Regions from separate parts of the Homo sapiens genome. Here all the other regions are linked to region 2. The links come from fine-mapping of genetic effects on gene expression. A gene starts in region 2. Each other region holds a variant in brackets. All regions are shown on one strand. Distances are from middle to middle.

Region 1 (5,044 bases), 260 kb after region 2:
CAGAAAATTTGGTGGATTTTAGGAATGTTCACCACGTTTGTGGGAATGCTATTGGCATGGAAAGACTCAAATCTTTCTATTCATTCTAAGTCCAAACATCCAGCTTATTTTCTAAGTGCCCAATGTCATTATATACAACATAATGTGCCAGCCACTAAGGGGTAGTATGAACTTCCAACAAGGTTTCAGTCCTCAAGGAATTCATATACCTGGAGATGATATCCTTCAAAATTACCCAGGCATACATATGAAGAATGGGTGATATACACTTATTCTCTACCTTGTTCTACCAAATTTTTAAGATGAATTAGCCAAAGATAGCCTTCTTTGATAAGGGTGGGACACACAATAGTATAGGAGGAGTTGAGAAGAGGACGGCTAATGTTCACCCCGCCTGCCATGCTCTCTCACCTGGTGCAGGGCAGCTTCTGTGTGTCATAAAGGGAGGTTCCATAGAGACACCATAATTTAGAAGATCTTTATGAAGTGAGAAAATTAAATGCTTTATCTTGAAATTATGAAATTACAGACTGCAATTTTTTTTACCTAATGTATTGTTTTTCCAACTCATGTATTTGAAAGGAGATTCAGTATAGAACACTGCAAAATCAATGAAAGTAGTGTTAAGTATGTAAATAGAGGAGATTGGAGCTTTACTTAAGACATATTAAACTGGCAAAAATAGAGGTATAAGTTATTTTTAAAAAATTATCCCTTATCCCTTGTTTTTGTGAGACTTCCTCACCATCCCAACTCATGTCATAACAAAAGGAATTATTTTTGACACTTTATGAGTTTTATGTTTTAATTAAAGCATCATATTAATGGGGGTGCATAGGTAGGCTATATTATTTTGATTCAGGTTAGTGAAGTCAGTGTTACAAAATAATTGCTAGAAAATAGTGTTGTTGCAATTGAGAAAGTTGAGATGCATACAGTAAAAGCATGTAATACAAAAGGTGCTGTGTCTCAGAGGTTGTAGAAAGGTATTTCCAGGGGATAGTTGTATATTAAGTCAAGAGGAATAGAAACAAAAAGAAGGCAATTTGACAAGTGGAATCCTACTGGTAGTCTTCAGGAAAACATGTTGTGGACTTACGGAAAACACTGATATACTTCATTGATATTGATCTGATTTCCTATAACTATTTACTCAGTAAAACTCCTGCTCTATTACTTATATCAATGAAAAATTTAAAATGGGATTTGATTTTAGTCTTTGTCCAGTTTCTGATATTTTGAGTAATGAAATAGTGAAGAAATAATGGCATGACAAATAGTCTAAAAGAACAAACTGAATAATTAGGCTTTGCAAAACTGAGTGTTTTCTAATGTACATGGCATTATTTTAGTGCATTGAAATAAAATGTGTGTATCCTGCTTGCAGCAGTTTTATGTAGACTTTCCTTGAATAATATGTGAGTGAGGGAGATATCTTTGTTTGTTTTCACTTTATGCAACACTAATTATCCAAACTGCATAAGCAGCTGTACAAGGAACTGTGAAATTGCAGTGTTTAACGGAATCCATTGGAGAGCATCACGTTCATGCTTGAGGACTTGAAAGCATGAAGGGTAGGAAATGAAACTAGGTAGGAGAAATGTGAAGTCAACCTAATTTTAAAGATTTGACATTCTAAGTCAGTGACAATAAGACTGAATGCTTTGAAACATTTGCAGCGTATTGCCTAATAGATGCTGTATATCATTTTAGAGCAAAGGTAAGTGATTTCCAAAATCAGGAGCTATCTGTCCAAGAACCATTTTCCAGGAATGAGAGTGGAAGAGTGGTAGAATTTGGTCATATGCAAAATCCCTTACTTTCTTTCCCACTCAGTAAAGAGAATAGTTTGCAAAATAAGGTCATGTGTTTATAGTCTCTGAGAATCCTATCAATGTTTCTGATTTTGATCACAATGGGATTATAAAAGGACTTTCTTCACGGAGAATCAGAAAGGTGTGTAATGTTTGGCATTTGGTTTTGTTTATAGAAAATAGCAAGATTTATTAGTTTTTCATCCATCTCATTACTCACCTTTGACAACTGGTAAGGAAGTATACTTTAATTAAGATTCAAACTTCCTCTTACTGAATGGAAAGTGACAATGTGCTAATGCTGTTTAGAAATGAGTTGGTTTAATAATAAACATATCTACAGTAATTCCTTTTAGACTCTGGATTTTAATGGACAGGAAAAACACAGATGTTTCACACAGACACTATTCATGATTGTTATGCTTTTATCATTGTTTAT[A/G]TGTATGTTTGTAATCACTGTATCATTCTAAAACACTTTGTAAGGAGGAATATAAAGAAATAGTGTTCAAAAAGAGTACCACAGAGAATTTGCCACTTTTTTCAGCTAAAATTTTACCTTGTAATCATTTAATTTTTACTATGTTCTTTTTTAAAAAAAGGTTCAGAATTTGTACTTATGGCTCAAAACTTTCTAAGTCACAATAAAAATAATTAGGCCACAGATCTTATGTACAGACAAATCTTTCAAAAGAGGGGTTCAGAAACACAAGAAACTAAAAGTTCACTATTGAACATACTGCTTTTTTTTGTTTACCACAAATACTTTTGTATTAGAAGTATTGAAGTTAGGACGCAAGTAAAGGAAGTTTAATTTTGTTCATAGGCTTGCAAGCTGAAATCAGCACAATATAAAATGTATTAAAATATGGACCACTAAACTATATATTACCTACTGGTATGTATTTACATCATTGGTCTGAGCCAACCTTATGCTCCATTCTTACTGTAAAGTAAGGTAACAAAAAAAATATTTTGACCCTCCACTGGGGATATGCTTCTGTGAAAATATACCAGTCACTAAATCTTAAGCCACATACAATTTTTTAATGTATGAAGGTATGCATTTGTGGTTTTAGAATACACCTATCTGCATTATACTATTTATTTCTAGTTGCCTTTCAGTGAAGAGTCAGGTCATTTCTTGCTTGTCTACTGGTTAGGTATCTTGGATTCTGACTTGATCTGTTTGGTTTTTAATTTTAAGTAGGAATAATATGTTTTATTAAATATTACTAAGATTTACATTTAATTGTGCCATATTCACCACCTTAATTCTCTTATCCCTTTATTAAATTTCTGGCTTCGTATTTAAGATGTTTTGATGATATTAAAGGATTTTGGCTCTTTAGGGAGGATCATCTTTTTTTTTTTCTTTTATAGTTTAAAAAAGTCCAGCATTAGCAGACATTTGCTTGTAATTTTCTCACTGTAGTAAGAGGAAATAAGCCAAAGCCCCTAGATAAGAAGTTGCTCAAATCTAGTTACTCACTTCCCAGTTCTAGCCCATGGAGAAAGGAATAAGCATGATCCTTGAGTCTGACTTTTTAGATGAAAATGGTTACATAAGGTTTCTAAAGCATGCTGATTATAGAGCAAACATTAAAACATTCAGTGGCAAATCTTTCTGAACTTTGGTAGCAATTTTAATAATGAAGGTATCGTATTTAGCCTAAAAATTACCAGTTTAAGCAACTGCATAAACACAACTGGTGTGGGGGGTGTAATTTTTAACAAGTGACCTGGCCAATATAATTTCAGAGTCTCATTCGTATTTTTTACAGTTGTACCTTCTATATCATAATTTCAGTTTTTCTAATGAATTGAGAACACCAGGCTTTGCCAGCAACATCATGAGAACATGGATTTTCTTCACCAGTAACTTTCTCAAGTCATGTAAATCAGGGTTACATCAGGTTAATTGGGTGTTAAAAATGCATGCCTTTTGTTATTTAGAGTTTAATTATCTCCTCAGGCCTGTGAGGTTAGCTGAGCAATAGCAAATGTGGCCGTTGTTGTGAATTCAAGAACATAAGTAATGGTGAATAGCTGTTTTGCCTTCTGCTGCCTGTGGGACAGTTGTTTGCAAGCCTCTGTCTTGCCAAGTGCTGTGTATATTGCATTGAGATTAAAGATCTTTTCAGCTGGTCTGTATTTGGGGCTTAATAAGAAAGCATATGTGTTAAGAATCGTGGAGAGATATCTCCTCTAGGTCTTTGAATTATGAATTCTCTGATGTAAAATATACAGTAAAGAAAAATAATCAGTAAGAATCCAAAACGTTACCAAGTTATGATTTTTAAAAAATCTTAGGAAAGTCACAGAAGTTACTACATTTGATTCTACTGTTACAGATGCCTTGGCTTTATCAAAGCTTATGAAGACAGGGAACTATCTCTATATGACTTTTCAGTTTTACTTGGTGCTAAACTTGAATGAATTATCTCAAAATTCTGTAGTTTGACTCAAAATTCCAAAGTTTGACTTAGGTATGGTGGCTAAATGATTGCTGACTCTGTGCCTTCTCAGTTTTGTTTTTTTTGTTGTATAAATTTAAGGGAGAACAAGTGCAATTTTGTTACATGCGTATGTTGTGTAGTGGTGAAGTCTTGGCTTTTAGTGTATCTACCATCTGAATAGTGTACATTCTGCCCATTATGTCGTTTCTCATCAATTTCCCCCTTACCCCACTTCCCTGCTTCCAAGTCTCCAATGTCTATCATTCCCCTCTTTGTTCATGTGTACACGTTATTTAGCTCCCACTAATAACTGAAAACTTGGTATTTGAGTGTCTGTTTGAGTTGTTTCACTTAAGATGATGGCCTCCAGTCCTACTCATATTGCTGCAAAATCTCAGAATTTTAATTGGTTTATATTGTTTGGATATTAATTTGATTCAGATTAACCTTTCCTCAATTCAATTGTCATATAGTTTTCTGATGCTTATGACATTGTAGATGGAAGTGTGTAAAAATTTTTTGTCCAACATGCCAAATTCATTTAAAAATTTAAAAAGGAAAATGTAGACTAAAATGTGTAAATTGCAAAATTATAACTTAGGTGATTAGAGTGACAATTTTTAATGAGCTAGGAAATACATGTTCACCACAGTTTGCTAAATAACATAGATACGCAATTTTTAAATTTCATCTCAATTTTTAACCAGTATCCTTAAAATTTTGAATATAGTGATCTTTGTTTTTGTAACATGAATTAATACGTGTGTCAAATCT
Region 2 (5,044 bases):
GAATAACTGTTAAGTATTAAATTTATGATTATTTCTATTTTAGCAAAGTAGTTTTCTTTCTTTTTATTTATTCATTTATTTTGAGACAGGGTCGCACTCTTGCCCAGGCTAGAGTGTTGCGGTGGTATCATGGCTCACTGCAGCCTCAACACCCCAGGCTCAAGCGTTCTTCCTGCCTCAGCCTCCCGAGTAGCTGGGACTACAGGCATGAATCACCATGCTCAGCTAGTTTTTATTTTACTTTTGCAGAGACAAGGTCTTACTATGTTGTCCAGGCTGATCTCGAATTCCTGCGCTCAAGTGATCCTCCTGTCTTGGCCTCTTAGAGTGCACGATTACAGGCAGAAGCCACTGCACCCAGCCTCAAAATAGTTCTCTAGGGGTCTGTCGGGTAAATTGGGCCTAAGAACTCTGAGTTTGTCCTGTCCACATGCACAACGACATTGCCTTCTCTTCTAATTTTGCTTCTGCCTGAGGTGATATCCTAAGGCTGAGCCTTCAGAATACTAGGTGCAGCAGATTTAATAACTGTGCGTGAATTTGGTCAACCTCATTAGCCCAACCCGATAATTAAATTCCAATTAAAATATCTCCTGCTTCTGACACAGAAAAAGAAAAAGTAGTGAGGAACAGATTAGATTATTTTGACCTTTTAATTTCCTTTAGGCATTGGGTCTGTAGGTCAATGATTAATATTAACATGCTTTGTGTAATTAACATCAAGTCCCCTGATAAGTAGGGCAGGAAATTCTTCATAGTTAGTATTTTAGAAGGATGCCTGTAATCTCCATTTGCACAAAATAAACTGACATATGATTTTCCAGGAAGGATGTTAGAATAAATGACTATCCAATCGTAGGATAGAGATATATTGTTAGTAGGAAGTATACGTCCATTAAACTGATTGTCTGACTCTGGTTTTTAAACTTTTTATTATGTAGAATTTGGAACATACACAAGAATAAACAGAATATAATACTTTACCATCCTACTGTAACAACCATCAACTTATAATTAATCTTTTGCCACTCACACCTCTAACCTCCTCATATTATTTTTGAAGCTTATTCTAGCTTATTCCATATAATGTAAAAGATGATATAAAATCATTTCATCTAAGGATATTCCAGTATATACTTCTAATAGAGAAGCAGTCATTGTTTTAAAACAAAACTACGGTACCATTTCTGTCCTAAAAAAGAACAATAATTTCTTGGTATTATAATATTTTTCCTTTATACTTATTTTTACTTTCTTTTATAGTGAGATAGATGAATAGATAATTAGTGGTTAAATTGGGGGTGATTTTACCCTGTAGGGGTCATTTGGCAATGTTTGGAGTTATTTTTGTTACCAACTAGGGGGGTGCTACTGGCGTCTAGTCGTTAGAAGCCAGGGATGCTGATAAACACACAGGATGGTCCCCCAATAATAAAGAACTGTCTCTTCCAAAATGCCAGTAGCGCTGCTATGGAGAAATTCAGGTAGGCAGACATATAGGCAAATGGCAGTTACAAGGGACAAAAGCTTATACAGAAAAGAGATACAAAATTAGGTGATTTAGGTAACCACACAAAGGACAAAAATGGATTTATAATTGAAAAGATGATTCAGAATAGTTATTCCAATTGAGATGTCCCATGATGAAATAGAATTTTATGATTGTTTTAAAGGGATCATCAGTGGCCTATAATTAATTAATGGAACACGTGTTCTGGGTGCCGGTAAAGTAATTCAGAAAAATAGGTTTCTTACTTGGGCAGCAGAGTCAAAGGAAGTAATGAGCAAAATATTTAGTAAATACGAGTAGAATCTGTGTTCTGAAAAAATCTAGAAAAAATTATTTTGAATCCGCTAAAAAGTCTGTCACAAATGGCTTTATGTAAAACAATGCTATGGATATTAATGCTTGTGACACATTTTTAAGACAAAAATGAGTATTACTTACTTTAATGTAGACAGAACTATGCTCATTATTCTCCACACAAAACCCCTGGCAATAATTTACCTAGCAGCACAGTAGTTCTTGTAGATCAAAGCTGCATTATTTAAGCATGTCCAGGGGGCAGGTTTTAGCTCTGTGCCTTTTACTTTAAGGAAAAAAAAATATTGGTTTGCTTCTTGAGAGAAAGCAATGTTTAGCTAACTAGGTGCTTCATGCAAGTCCTGCAATATTTAAACTCACATGAATTCCTCCTGTTATCTGGGAAGAACTCCCTTTCTGACCCAAATACTCTAAAATCTGAGGAAAGTACAGAACAACTGTGGGAAAGCCAGTCTCTTCAAATGAACAGCGATGTATTTTCGTTTAAATTAAACCCGAATGTTAACTAGATTCAGGAAAGGAAATGGCAGAGGAGAGTCTGTCGTTGATATAGAATACGCCTGCCTGCGTCGGCTCACAGACAAGTGATGAAGTCCAACTCTGAAATTTCAGGCAATTTGTATACCAAGCTCCTCCTTTTCTGCAGTCTTCTTTTCCATTGGTAAAATTCTTTTGCAGGGTCATGTAGGGATCCCACCCCTTCTCTGTGTTTTCACTCTGAAGCTCTACACAACTTTACACCTGAATGAACGCCAAACCTCTATGGATATATAAAGGGAAGCTTGAGGAGGAATTTCACAGTTACAGTGCAGAAGCAGAAGCAAAAGAATTAACCAGCTCTTCAGTCAAGCAAATCCTCTACTCACCATGCTTCCTCCTGCCATTCATTTCTATCTCCTTCCCCTTGCATGCATCCTAATGAAAAGCTGTTTGGCTTTTAAAAATGATGCCACAGAAATCCTTTATTCACATGTGGTTAAACCTGTTCCAGCACACCCCAGCAGCAACAGCACGTTGAATCAAGCCAGAAATGGAGGCAGGCATTTCAGTAACACTGGACTGGATCGGAACAGTAAGTGTGTTTTACTTGTACAGTTTTTTTTTTTCTTTTCTGGTAGCATTAGCTCACATTCCTGTAGAATTGTTTTATTGGTAACTAACCTGAACCGTATATATGTTGTGAAACAATTTGGGAGTAATCTGCTGCATGTGCAGGTTGGCATTCTTCCCTAGGTAGTGATTTTAAAGTTAACCTAACTAAAACAGTGGTTTAATAGTGCAAGCACAGACTGAAGTTTTATCAAACATCCACAAAGAAAACATTTCCAGGAATTAAACTATTGTTTTGTCAAAATCATGCAAAATGACCATTTTAAAAAGTATTGTTTTAGATAGCTCAAGTTCCGGTTGTTTTGTCAATTTATTTCAGGGCATATGCAATTTTGGTAAAGTGTATAAACGTAACTAATATATATTATTAGTTACCATCCACAAATAAATATAGGGAATCACAAGGGAAAAAAGGAAGCTTCCAGGAGAAAAAATTTGTTTACATTGGATTTCTAAAATATGTCTAGTGAGATAGTCAAAAGTTTTGATGATGCTCAATGTAAAAGAGGGATAAACTAAAAATGTTGGAGAATCACATTTTTCTAAAATAATTCCTTGTTGTCCCATTCAAAATTTAGATAATTGTGTATTTCTGTGACAGACTGGGGACATTTTTGTAACTTAAGAGATGTAAAACAACAGCTTAGTTGACACACTAATTGACCACTGGTTAGGGGGATTCAAATTACCCCTAACTTTTGTTTCTATCTTTTCCTTTAGAAGAGGCCATATGCTAATAATCAGGTTTTAAGAGAGAGAGAGAGAGAGAGAGAAACACTGCGCAGGAAATCTTACACAAATCTTTTGCCTCTCCTTCTTCACTCCATTCAACTACGAAAAGTAGTTTTGACTTTTGAAAAGTCAAAGCAAATTTGACTGTTAATGTCTAAGAAAGCTAGGATGTTTTAACTTTCACGAAGCTGGTTGCTTTTAAGTACACAGGACATATCTGATTATTATTAGATTACTGAGCAATGTGGTGGGTATTCGTTGTCAATGAACTGTCACTGCAAAAATGCCAAATCTGTATATACACAGGAACAGAAAGCTTGACGAGACAAAATTATTTCTGGCTATTTCCAGGTGCATTCCTGAGGCAGCTGCAGGAAGGTGAGCTGGAGGCAGAATCAGGCACGCTGAGCACACTGTCCAACCAAACAATTTACGCTTTACATTTTAATCCCACAATTCTAGATTTCTATGCATGCATGTCTATATACATAAGTTTTTCCACAACTATCACGTTCCCCTTAAGCTATATCTCTTACCTCAGAAGTACTAGCATACAGAGATGAAGTGAAACTCCTGATTCAGTTCTACTTCGACGTATCTTTCAGTACTTTTTGTGGAACCACTTCAGTGTCCCTTATCATTTTTATTTGTAAAATGTCAGCAGCCTGTACTTTTAAACATCCTTTTTTTTTTTCCTGGTTGGCAAGCCTTGATTTCTTTTCAAGCTTGTTATAGGCAATTCTCCTCAAGTTTAGATAACAAAGCAAGGGTAAGGAAAACTTAAAATATTTAAAGATTAATTTTTGCTTTAATTACATAAGGCATGTAACAAGAAACAGCCAATTAGAGAACATACCTATCAAATCCAAATAACTAAAACAAAAAGTTTGCCATGACCAATATTCAGGAAATGAACACCGTGGTTCCTTTTGCAGTTGTAAATCAGACATGTTAGGCATTTTTCTGCCATAAAATTCATGGAAATGTAGCCAAGTTGTTATGGCAACCATACGTTCCTGATTTAGGGGCTTTTATATTCTTTGAGTCTTGAGTTGTAGTGGCATTTTACATTTCAAACATGTTACTGTTTGTATTTTTTAAAAGATAGTTTGGGAATTTATGTTTAAAACATAGTTATTAAGTTTGATATGCAAAATGTCAGATGTTGTACACATGTATGTCTGAGTCTCTGCAGCTAAAGTCTATAATTGAAATAAAATATTACCGAGAGCATATGCATTATACACAATATTTAAATGGCTATCACATTTTTTCTCAACAGATTTTTAAAAAGCCTAATTAAAAACACTTGCAGACATTAGCCAATATGACCCTTGAGAAAGAGAATATTAAAGTATACTCTTAACTCATTGAATA
Region 3 (4,499 bases), 42 kb after region 2:
GTAATATCAGATAAAAAATTGTTCTTCAAAATAAACAAAGAACTCTCAAAACTGAACAATAAAAACACAAATGACCCAACTAAAAAGTGGGCCAAAGACTCTGACACCTCACCAAATATGATACACATGACAAATACGCATATGAACAATGCTCAACATCATATGTCATCAAATAAATACAAATTAAATCAACACTGAGATACCACTACACACCTATTAGAATGGCCAACATCCAGAACACTGACACACCAAATGCTGGTGAGGATGTGAAGCAACAGAAACTCTCATTCATTGCTGGTGGGAATGCAAAATGGTATACCTATTTTGGAGGACCGTTTGGCCGTTTCTTACAAAACTGACCATACTTTTGCCCGTGCAATTCAGCAATCTTTCTCCTTGGTATTTACCCAAAGGAATTGAAAATTTTTGTACACATAAAAACCTGCACAGAGGAACAGAAAACCAAACACCGCATGTTCTCACTTATAAGTGAGAGCTGAATAATCAGAACACGGGGAGGGGAACCACACCGGGACCTGTAGGGAGATGGGGAGTGGGGAGGGAGAACATTAGGAAAAATAGCTAATGCATGCTGGGTTTAATACCTAGGTCAAGGGTTGATAGGTACAGCAAACCACCATGGCATACGTTTACCTTTGTAACAAACCTGCACATCCTGCACATGTACCCCAGAACTTAAAATAAAATTAAAAAAAACCCTACACAGAGATGTTTATTACAGCTTAATCATAATTGCCAAAACTTGGAAGCAAACAAGATGTCTTTCAGTAGGTGAGTGAATAAATACATCACAGTACATCCAGAAAAAAAAAAAAAATCAGTGTTAAAGAGAAAGAAGCTGTCAAGCCATGAAAAGATATGGAGAAAACTTAAATGCATATTACTAAGTGAAAGAAGCCAATCTGAAAAGAATACTGTATGGTTCCAACTATATGATGTTCTGGAAAAGGCAAAAGCATGGAGGCAGTAAAAAGATAATTGGATGCCAGGGATTGGGCAGGGATTAGAGGAGAGGAAGGCATGAATAGACAGAGGATAGAGGATTTTAGGGCAGTGAAATTACTCTGCATGATACTGTAATGGTGGATACACATCACTGTAAATTTATCAATCCTATAGAATGAATGTACAACACCAAGTGTGAACTCTAACGTAAACTAGGGACTGTGGGTTATAATGATGTGTCACTGTAGGTTCATCAGTTGTAACCAATGTACCACTCTGGTGGGAGATGTTAATAATGTGGGAGGCTATGTATGTGTGGGGCAGGGAGCTATTGGAAATTTTTGTACCTTTCTCTCAATTTTGCTGTGAACCTAAAACTACACTTAGTCTACTTTAAAAAATTAAAGGCATGCCAAAGCCAGGTTATGAAATCGTGGTATACATTTAACAAAGTTATGCTTTAAACATTTATAATACATTTTTAAATTCACAAGACAAAGGATTTATTTTAAAAGTCAATACTGGGGTTCTAGTAACGAGACATAAAGTTGAATGAACAGTGCCTTATTTTTTCAATCATATTACTGCATTTCTAACTACGTATAACTTCATTTGCAGATTATAGTCCAAATGAGAATCTTCCTCAGTGTGAAGCCTGTATTAGTTTCCTCTTGCTGCTATAATAAATTACCACAGATTTAGCAGCTTAAAACAACTCAAGTATGTTATCTTACAGTTCTGGATATCAGAAATCTGAAAATGGGGTGGCAGGGCTATATTATTCTGCAGGCTCTAAGAGAAAAACCTGTTTCCTTGCCTTTTCCAGCTTTTAGAGGTTGCCTACATTCCCACCCCTCTGCACTCTGATGGCTGCTTCCATCCTCATACCTCCTTCTCTAACTCTGACCTCTCTCCTATAAGGATGCCAGAGATTACACAGGGCCCACCTGGATAATCCAGGCTACTCCCCTCCATCTTGAGATCCTTCACTTAATCACATCTGCAATGTCTCTTTAGCAGTGTAAGGTAACATATTCATAGCTTCTGGAGATAAGAGCATGGGCATCTTTGGGGAGTCATTATTTTGCCTACTTGGAAGCTCAAAATGGAAACCACTCCAGGAACTTCCAACTCTGCATGCTCTGCCTCATGATTCAGTTGGGGTTTATTTTTTCTAAACTCTTCAAGTGATATCTTAGAATTGTTATTACCAATGGGTCCCAGAGGAGTTCACTTTTCAGGGTATGTACTTTCACATGCCTGATGCAGAGAAGATATTCTCATATTGTGGCTGCTATAACTTGGTATTAAGTAACAAGGAAGCTACATCTGTTACCCCAAAGTATGCAAAACATGGAACTAATTATATTTATATAAAAAGGACAGAGAGAAAAATGTTGCTTCATACTAC[G/A]TATATGAATGAATACTTTAATGTGCCCTTTTTTCTCTACAAGTTGGTCTGCTAGACATTGTTAATATACAGTATATAAGATCTAAGGATCTAAGGATTCATGGAAGATCTAAATTGATATATCTGCTCTAAGAACAAAACTAAGATTCTAGTTAAAATTTGTCAATGTTTAATTATATAAAATTATTCTATAGCAATTAGTATAACAAGAGCTTTATTACTCTACTTTTCTTCACTCAAGATTAAGTAAAGGAAGAATACCTTTATAACAACTCCACCTTTAGATTAAAAAGGGAGGTTTAAAGATCAATATTAATAGAAATACTAATTCGATTTGCCTTCCTGCTCTCATAGATAGACTCATTTATTTATCCACCCAGTTAGTCAACAGATATTTAAATGCTTGATACAGGTGTGGTAGTGGCGCTATGAAGTCAAGTATTGTGCCAAACTTGTTTAATATAGTTGCTGCCTGGGCATCCATTTTTAGGCCTGATATAAGCTGTTTGAAACCCAGTTGTATCACGTCACCTGTGGCCTACTTAAAACTTCCCCTCCCTGTGATATAGAACACTTATTCCTCATTCCATGACCAAAAACCCAACAGCTGCTAACCATGATAAAACCCAATGGTCAACACCAGAGTCAAGTTCTCCCTTTGCTGGTGTTTTCTTTAAACTAGTCAATCCACAACCCCCTCTGGAAAGCCTAAGGGATAAAGCCTTTGGACCTTAACACAGCCCCACAGGTCCTCTCTCTTGCACCCCACCTGCTGGTTGGGAGTCCTGTTATCTCCAGACTTCCATCAGGCTTATTCTCTGGTGAATCTGTAAGTAATAAAATGCGCCTGTTATTTCACATGTTTTGTGTGCTGCCTCCTCTGGCGTCTCACCTGCACACCAGAACCTAGCTTTCCTCTCTGGGCCAGGGCTCTCCTGAAGAGTGGCTGTTCTGGCTTATGGCCACTCGTAAGAGAGAGACCTCGAGATCAAATTAGAAAGGAACGATAGCAATAAAAATTACAAGGAAGTATATTATGGCACCCACTTTTCAGTTAAGAAACCAACTAGCACAGGACCTAAATGCTAATTATAATAAAAGTAACAAAAGTGAAAGAATGCCTTCAATAAGACTAAACAAAAAGGAAAAGCAGAAAACATATTTTTATATGCTCTCAAGAAAACAGGTAAAAATAAAAATTGTAATACTACAACTAGATAACATTTCCAGTGTTTAAAAAGATTATTTTTTATTAATCATAAGCCACTGGATTAAGACTGAATTACTGATGATTATACACTTTAATGATCATTAATCTATTTAATCAGCAATTCATTCAATACATATTAAGCTTGTGTTACATTCCAGGAGCTGGGCACACACACACAACCCAAGCCAAAAGAAAAATGTTGCTGCTTGCATGGAGTTTACATTCCAGGGACCTAATACAATAGTGCTCTCCTCCAAATTCTCACTATACTTTCATGGTAAACCTCACCAGCAACAAGAGTACTAAATAAGGTAAGATATGCTTTAGGCCTGGAATTCTTCAACTTTGGCCTACTTCTGTATGAGGGCCTTAAGGCTCCTCTGCCATTAGTTGTGCAATCTTACATAAATTAACCATTTTAACGTCTTTTCCCCTTTGTAAAAAGGGAAATGGCAATAGTTGAGTTCTTCTGGGGACTAAATGACATAAGGTGTATCGATTGTTCAGCAATTAGTATTGCTTTGACCCTATGGTTCCAAAACATGCCTGCTCATCAGAATCACCCGAGGATCTTTAAAAACATTCCAAAGTCCGGTGCTCACCAGACCAATTAAATCCCAATCTCTGAGCGTGTCAGGACACGCTCCCCAGGTGGTTCCAAAGTGCAGACAAGTTTGAGAGCCACCACAGTTTGGATTATTGATGTGCCACAATAACACTTGCTAATCCATCTGTCTTTACCCCAGGTGGAACCAGGAAGCCTCCAGAGCTTAATGGAATTCAGATAATCGAGGTGCATACGCACCCTACGTCCCATCCTGTGACTTGAATCCCAATCTCTTCCGAAATTTTAAAGCAGGGAGGGATGGGACAGAGGCCTGACCTCTCCTGCATACTCATGGCCCTTGAGTA
Region 4 (5,044 bases), 210 kb after region 2:
CTGAGTTCAGAATTCACTTGTGCATCTTTGTTGAAGTTAAGATCTGGTGATATGGTTGCCTTATTTCATATCTGTGAAGTCAGAAACTTGGCAGGATGTGAGACTATACCTTACTTGCATGCAAATAAGTCAGCCTGACACAGTATCATAGATATTGGTGGAAGATCTGAGACTACAGAGTCAGAGAAAAGACCATTTATAACCACAGCAGTAGCAAGAACAAAAATGTAGCACTCGGTTTTTTTCTGAATTCCAATTTCCATGGAGAGATGCAATTAGAGTTAGTTGTTGCTGGGCAGTAGAGTTCTTTAAAAAGAACCTTGATAGTAGGAAACCCTGGCCTTATACAGGCAAATCAGCCCATCTGCTCCTCAAGAGATAACTCTGGAATGCCAAGTAAGCCTAATCCAGAGAGAGAGAGATGTCCCCATCTTACTGGAAAATAAATCTGTTCTAGGAAGAAATATCTCTATCTCTGCAATTTGTACAAACATCCTTGCAAAGGAAGTATGGAACAAGTTAGCTGTTAATGCCTTTGAAAATGTTTGAATACATGAAGGACTTTTGAAAAATTGTCTCCCTGTAATATCTAGATGTTACCACTTGATCAAACTTACTATCGCAGAATGGATACTGGTTTCTTTTTTTATTGTGGTGTTAATATATTGTTGATGACTATGGACTTTTTGGCTTTTTTCTTAAAAATCTTTGAGCTTTATGCTCAATATGAATTTTAAACTGAACTAAAATTTTTAAAATTTAATAGCCAACTAATTTCTAGAGTAAAGCTAAGACCTTGAAAACTTTCCTTTCTCATTCTCCAGTATTTTGTCAAAATTATAGCAAATTAAGCTACTAAATAGATAATGTACAGAGTTACAGAGTTTGATGTTTCACCAAGGAACAGCACTGTATTATTTTTAGAACTATGAAATGTAAAGCATTCTAAATGTAATACCAGTAAGAATCACTGAAATGTGATTTCCTGTGGAATTATTATAGCAAAGATATCACAGATCCCTTGTCTAGTAATTCTTAAGTTTTTGTTCATATTGTGATGATAGAAAAATCTTAAAAGAAGCTAATTAGAATATTAAACTATATGGAATAAAAAATCTTACTAGGAAAGTTTGCATAATATGTGTTCTTCTCTAAATCTAATCTAATCTCGGACTACTTATAGTAGTAGAAGTAAGTTCCCGACAGTTTTAGGAATAGTTTGTGTAGTTTAAGTCTTAATTCTCTCTCACTTATATTGTTGTGATGATTTCTTACTGCTTTCCCCATTTCTAGTTATTTCAGGTTTAGTGAAGTCTATTCCCTGTATTAAAACTGTGTTATGTGCTTCCAGATACCTGCAATCATCACTGCACCCTTTCTCTTTTAGTCCTTCAACATGCTCTTCAATATTTATTTGTATAAGATAAACCAGACTACTAGCCTGTTCCAGAATATATTCTGTTTATGTCCATATTTTTTTCCTATGTGAAACAATTTTCTATATCCTTGTTTGCTAAAATATGCATTATTCATAGCCTAGTTCAAATGACTATTTCTTGATAGCCTGATGAACTTCAGCATGTTTCATTTTTTTAAAAAATATATGGTCCTTGGCTTTATGGGCCTTCTAGCAATTATGTGTTCCTTTGTAACAAAGATGTTTATGTTTGGTCTATCTAATTTGTGAATTCATTTCTGTTTTTTCCTACTAGCATGTAAAAGTCACATCTGAGGCTCTGGGTCATGCTGGCAGACATCTTCAGCAAATCATCTTAGATCAATGCTACAATTTTGTTTGTGTGAATGTAAGTCAATTCAAATGATTGAAGGCACTTAAGGATATGAACAAATGTGGAAGAGAACTAATTTGATTCTTAAATATTTATATATGATATTATGATGAGTTCTTCTACACATTTTTGGAGATTTTATCTTTGAAAGAGAAATAATACTTTCAACAAGCTAATTCCCATAATGAGAAGAGTGGTATTTTGGACAATATTTTCAATTTTGTTTGTACCTGGTCCAAAGTAGGTAATAAGAGGCAGGTTTGACTCAATTAGTAGATAAAAATTTGACATGTATAACTTTATGGATATCCTTTAAAATTGTTTCTAAATTAAAAACTAAGTTTGATAAATATTTTGAATGTTATGCAGAATCTCTCCATTTATTCCTTGAAATAAGTTTTAAGTCATTTAAAAACGTCTTCTCATATCCTTTTATTTTTCTGGTCTTTTAGGTTACAACCTCTGATTTTCAAGAAACCCAGAAGTTACTGAGCATGCTTGAAGAGAGTAGTCTTTGCATTTTATATCCTGTTGTTGTTGTTTCAGTAAGTGAAATTAATGCAGATTTTTCTCAAACTTATGCTTCCTTCTTTGTAACTCAATGTACATATTTTTAAAAACTCATCCAATTGAGAGCATTGACCCATACTCAAAAGAAACTCTTGTTTGTGGATTCCTCTGCTTACTCTCTAGCTATGACTTCTATGACTGAATGCCTTTATTATTGCAATCATTTGGTTGAACTGACAGGTTTGGAAATCTTTTTCAACCCAGCAACCAATTTCATATTTTTTTCCTTCACTAAAATGGCAAAGTATTCGGTTTAAGTCAACTGGTTGTTTGGATATGTAAAACAGCTTTATTTAATATATTATCAGAATACCATTAGGGAAGCATTCCAGATGTTAATGTGAGGAAAAAACCTCGTGGAAGAAAGCTGATTCTTGGGTTGTTTCATTTTCTCTGTTCCACCGAAAGCAAAAGTAGAACACGAATTAAAGAGAATTCCTGGAAGAATGGCCTATGAAAAATTTTGGGAGATTTTTCCATGAAAATCTAAAAGTATACATTTAATGCAGAATTTATTTGATTAGCCCATTAAACTATATAGCAGAGGGGACTATCAGAGAGTAAACTCAGGAAGGAACAAAATCAGAGCCCAAGTCCTCTAAATTGGC[T/C]GAGGAGCAGAATGTATAGTTGGTAGCATTTTGCTGTGTGAAGGGGTTCCAGACCATAAATTCTCAGAAGTGCCTAGCAGCTTCGAAGTTCCTAAAGCTCAGGCCCATCCCATACTGTGGGAATTTAATTCTTGTCAGGTAGGATTAGTAATAAAGAATAAAGATAATTTGCAATATAAATAACTCTTGACTGAGTAATGCAAGTAGTAACAAATTAGCAACTATGGGAGATTTAATTAATTCAGTGGCCTCTTTATTTGGTCATATACCATAAAGATAACTTTCATGGTTGCATCTGGTTTTGAAACCCAAGCTTCTTATGTAATTGATCTTCATAGAACACAAGCTTTCATTGAGATTTTTAGAAACAATATGGAATATATCCAATGTTGGAAGCCTCTGAGGCTCTGTAGGATAGAGATAAGTTCAAAGTTCTGTGTTTGGCCTTTTATTCCTCTCTCCACATTTACTTGCTTAGAAATTTCATTTTTCCGTGTTCCCAGATATGGTGATGAGGCCGTCCAATGTAGTGAAAATAACAAAGGCTTTGAACTCAGAACACTTGTTTCTTGGTCTAGTTACTTAATTGTTCTGAGGTTTGGTTTCCTCGACGTAGAAACAAGGCTAATAACTCTACTTCTTAAGTTGTTATAAGGATGAAAGTGAATGAATGCAAAATGTAGTTTCTAGCACACTGCTAGGCCCTGATCAGGCATGTGAAGTTAGTTCTGTTTAATAGTATGGTCCTCTTTTTTTGTCTTTGGATGAGATGACTCCAAATTAACTTCCACAGCTCTAATCTGATTCCTAAGCTTCAGCCATGTATTTCCCAACATTTTTTTAAAATTATACTTTAAGTTCTGGGGTACATGTGCACAATGTGCAGGTTTATTACATAGGTATACATGTGCATGCTGGTATGCTACACCCATCAACTTGTCATTTACATTAGGTATTTCTCCTAATGCTATCCCTCTCCCAGCCCCCCACTCCCCAACAAGCCCCAGTGTGTGATGTTCCCCTCCTTGTGTCCATGTGTTCTCATTGTTCAGCTACCACTTATGAGTGAGAACATGTGGTGTTTGGTTTTCTGTTCTTGTGTTAGATTGCTGAGAATGATGGTTTCTAGTTTCATCTATGTCCCTGCAAAGGACATGAATGCATCCTTTTTTATGGCTGCATAGTATTCCATGGTGTGTATGTGCCATATTTTCTTTATCCAGTCTATCACTGATGGGCATTTGGGTTGGTTCCAAGACTTTGCTATTGTGAACAGAGCTGCAATAAACATACGTGTGCATGTGTCTTTATTGTAGAATGATTTATAATCCTTTGGGTGTATACCCAGTAATGGGATTGCTGGGTCTAATGGTATTTCTGGTTCTAGATTCTTGAGGAATTGCCACACTGTCTTCCACAATGTCACCAACAGTGTAAAAGCGTTCATATTTCTCCACATCCTCTCCAGCATCTGTTGTTTCTTGACTTTTTAATGATTGCCATTCTAACTGGTGTGAGATGGTATCTCATTGTGGTTTTGATATGCATTTCCAGTGATGATGAGCATGTTTTCATGTTTCTTGGCTACATAAGTGTCTTCTTTTGAGAACTGTCTGTTCATATCTTTCACCCATTTTTTATGGGGTTGTTTGATTTTTTCTTGTAAATTTGTTTAAGTTCCTTGTGGATTCTGGATATTCGACCTTTGTCAGATAGATAGATTGCAAACATTTTCTCCCATACTGTAGGTTGCCTGTTCACTCTGATGGTAGTTTCTTTTGCTTTGCAGAAGCACTTCAGTTTAATTAGATCCCATTTGTCAATTTTGGCTTTTGTTGCCATTGCTTTTGGTGTTTTAGTCATGAAGACTTTGCCCATCTTTATGTCCTGAATGGTATTGCTTAGGTTTTCTTCTAGGGTTTTTATGGTTTTAGGTCTTATGTTTAAGTCTTTAATTGATCTTGAGTTAATTTTTGTATAAGGCATAAGGAAGGGATCCAGTTTCAGCTTTCTGCTTATGGCTAGCCAGTTTTCCCAGCACCACTTATTAAATAGGGAATCCTTTCCTCGTTGCTT

Direction of the effects. Positions count from the first base shown, and alleles are read on the strand shown. Sizes are in standard deviations (SD) of each study's normalised expression.
As copies of A replace G in region 1, the expression in thyroid of the gene that starts at base 2,623 in region 2 goes down (moderate effect, 0.41 SD a copy in GTEx).
With allele G in place of A in region 3, the expression in gastroesophageal junction of the gene that starts at base 2,623 in region 2 is higher (small effect, 0.35 SD a copy in GTEx).
For the expression in aorta of the gene that starts at base 2,623 in region 2, T is the low allele of the variant in region 4 and C is the other (small effect, 0.33 SD a copy in GTEx).

What was found. PIP is the estimated chance that this variant, and not a neighbour inherited with it, causes the effect. A credible set is the group of variants that fine-mapping cannot tell apart.
Region 1: its variant is the best candidate, but not a certain one, in a credible set for the expression of SOSTDC1 in thyroid (GTEx, PIP 0.79).
Region 3: its variant is the best candidate, but not a certain one, in a credible set for the expression of SOSTDC1 in gastroesophageal junction (GTEx, PIP 0.80).
Region 4: its variant is the best candidate, but not a certain one, in a credible set for the expression of SOSTDC1 in aorta (GTEx, PIP 0.59).

Annotation. Positions count from the first base shown.
Region 1 is chr7:16,203,936-16,208,979 of GRCh38, reverse strand. The region is part of intron 9 of CRPPA (CDP-L-ribitol pyrophosphorylase A); the gene reads left to right. It also overlaps the pseudogene RPL36AP29. Among named protein-coding and RNA genes, the nearest start is that of CRPPA-AS1, 4.0 kb to the left of the region's middle. The variant A/G (reference allele first, on the strand shown) is at 2,254.
Region 2 is chr7:16,463,317-16,468,360 of GRCh38, reverse strand. SOSTDC1 (sclerostin domain containing 1) reads left to right here and starts at 2,623. Exons shown (of 2, transcript NM_015464.3): 1 at 2,623-2,897. The coding sequence starts at 2,693. The region is part of intron 4 of LOC105375168 (a long non-coding RNA gene); the gene reads right to left.
Region 3 is chr7:16,421,685-16,426,183 of GRCh38, reverse strand. It overlaps LOC105375168 (a long non-coding RNA gene), which reads right to left. Exons shown (of 5, transcript XR_007060223.1): 2 at 3,147-3,204. Among named protein-coding and RNA genes, the nearest start is that of CRPPA, 2.4 kb to the right of the region's middle. The variant G/A (reference allele first, on the strand shown) is at 2,378.
Region 4 is chr7:16,255,681-16,260,724 of GRCh38, reverse strand. It overlaps CRPPA (CDP-L-ribitol pyrophosphorylase A), which reads left to right. Exons shown (of 10, transcript NM_001101426.4): 7 at 1,713-1,805; 8 at 2,243-2,335. The region is part of intron 3 of CRPPA-AS1 (CRPPA antisense RNA 1); the gene reads right to left. Among named protein-coding and RNA genes, the nearest start is that of CRPPA-AS1, 48 kb to the right of the region's middle. The variant T/C (reference allele first, on the strand shown) is at 2,969.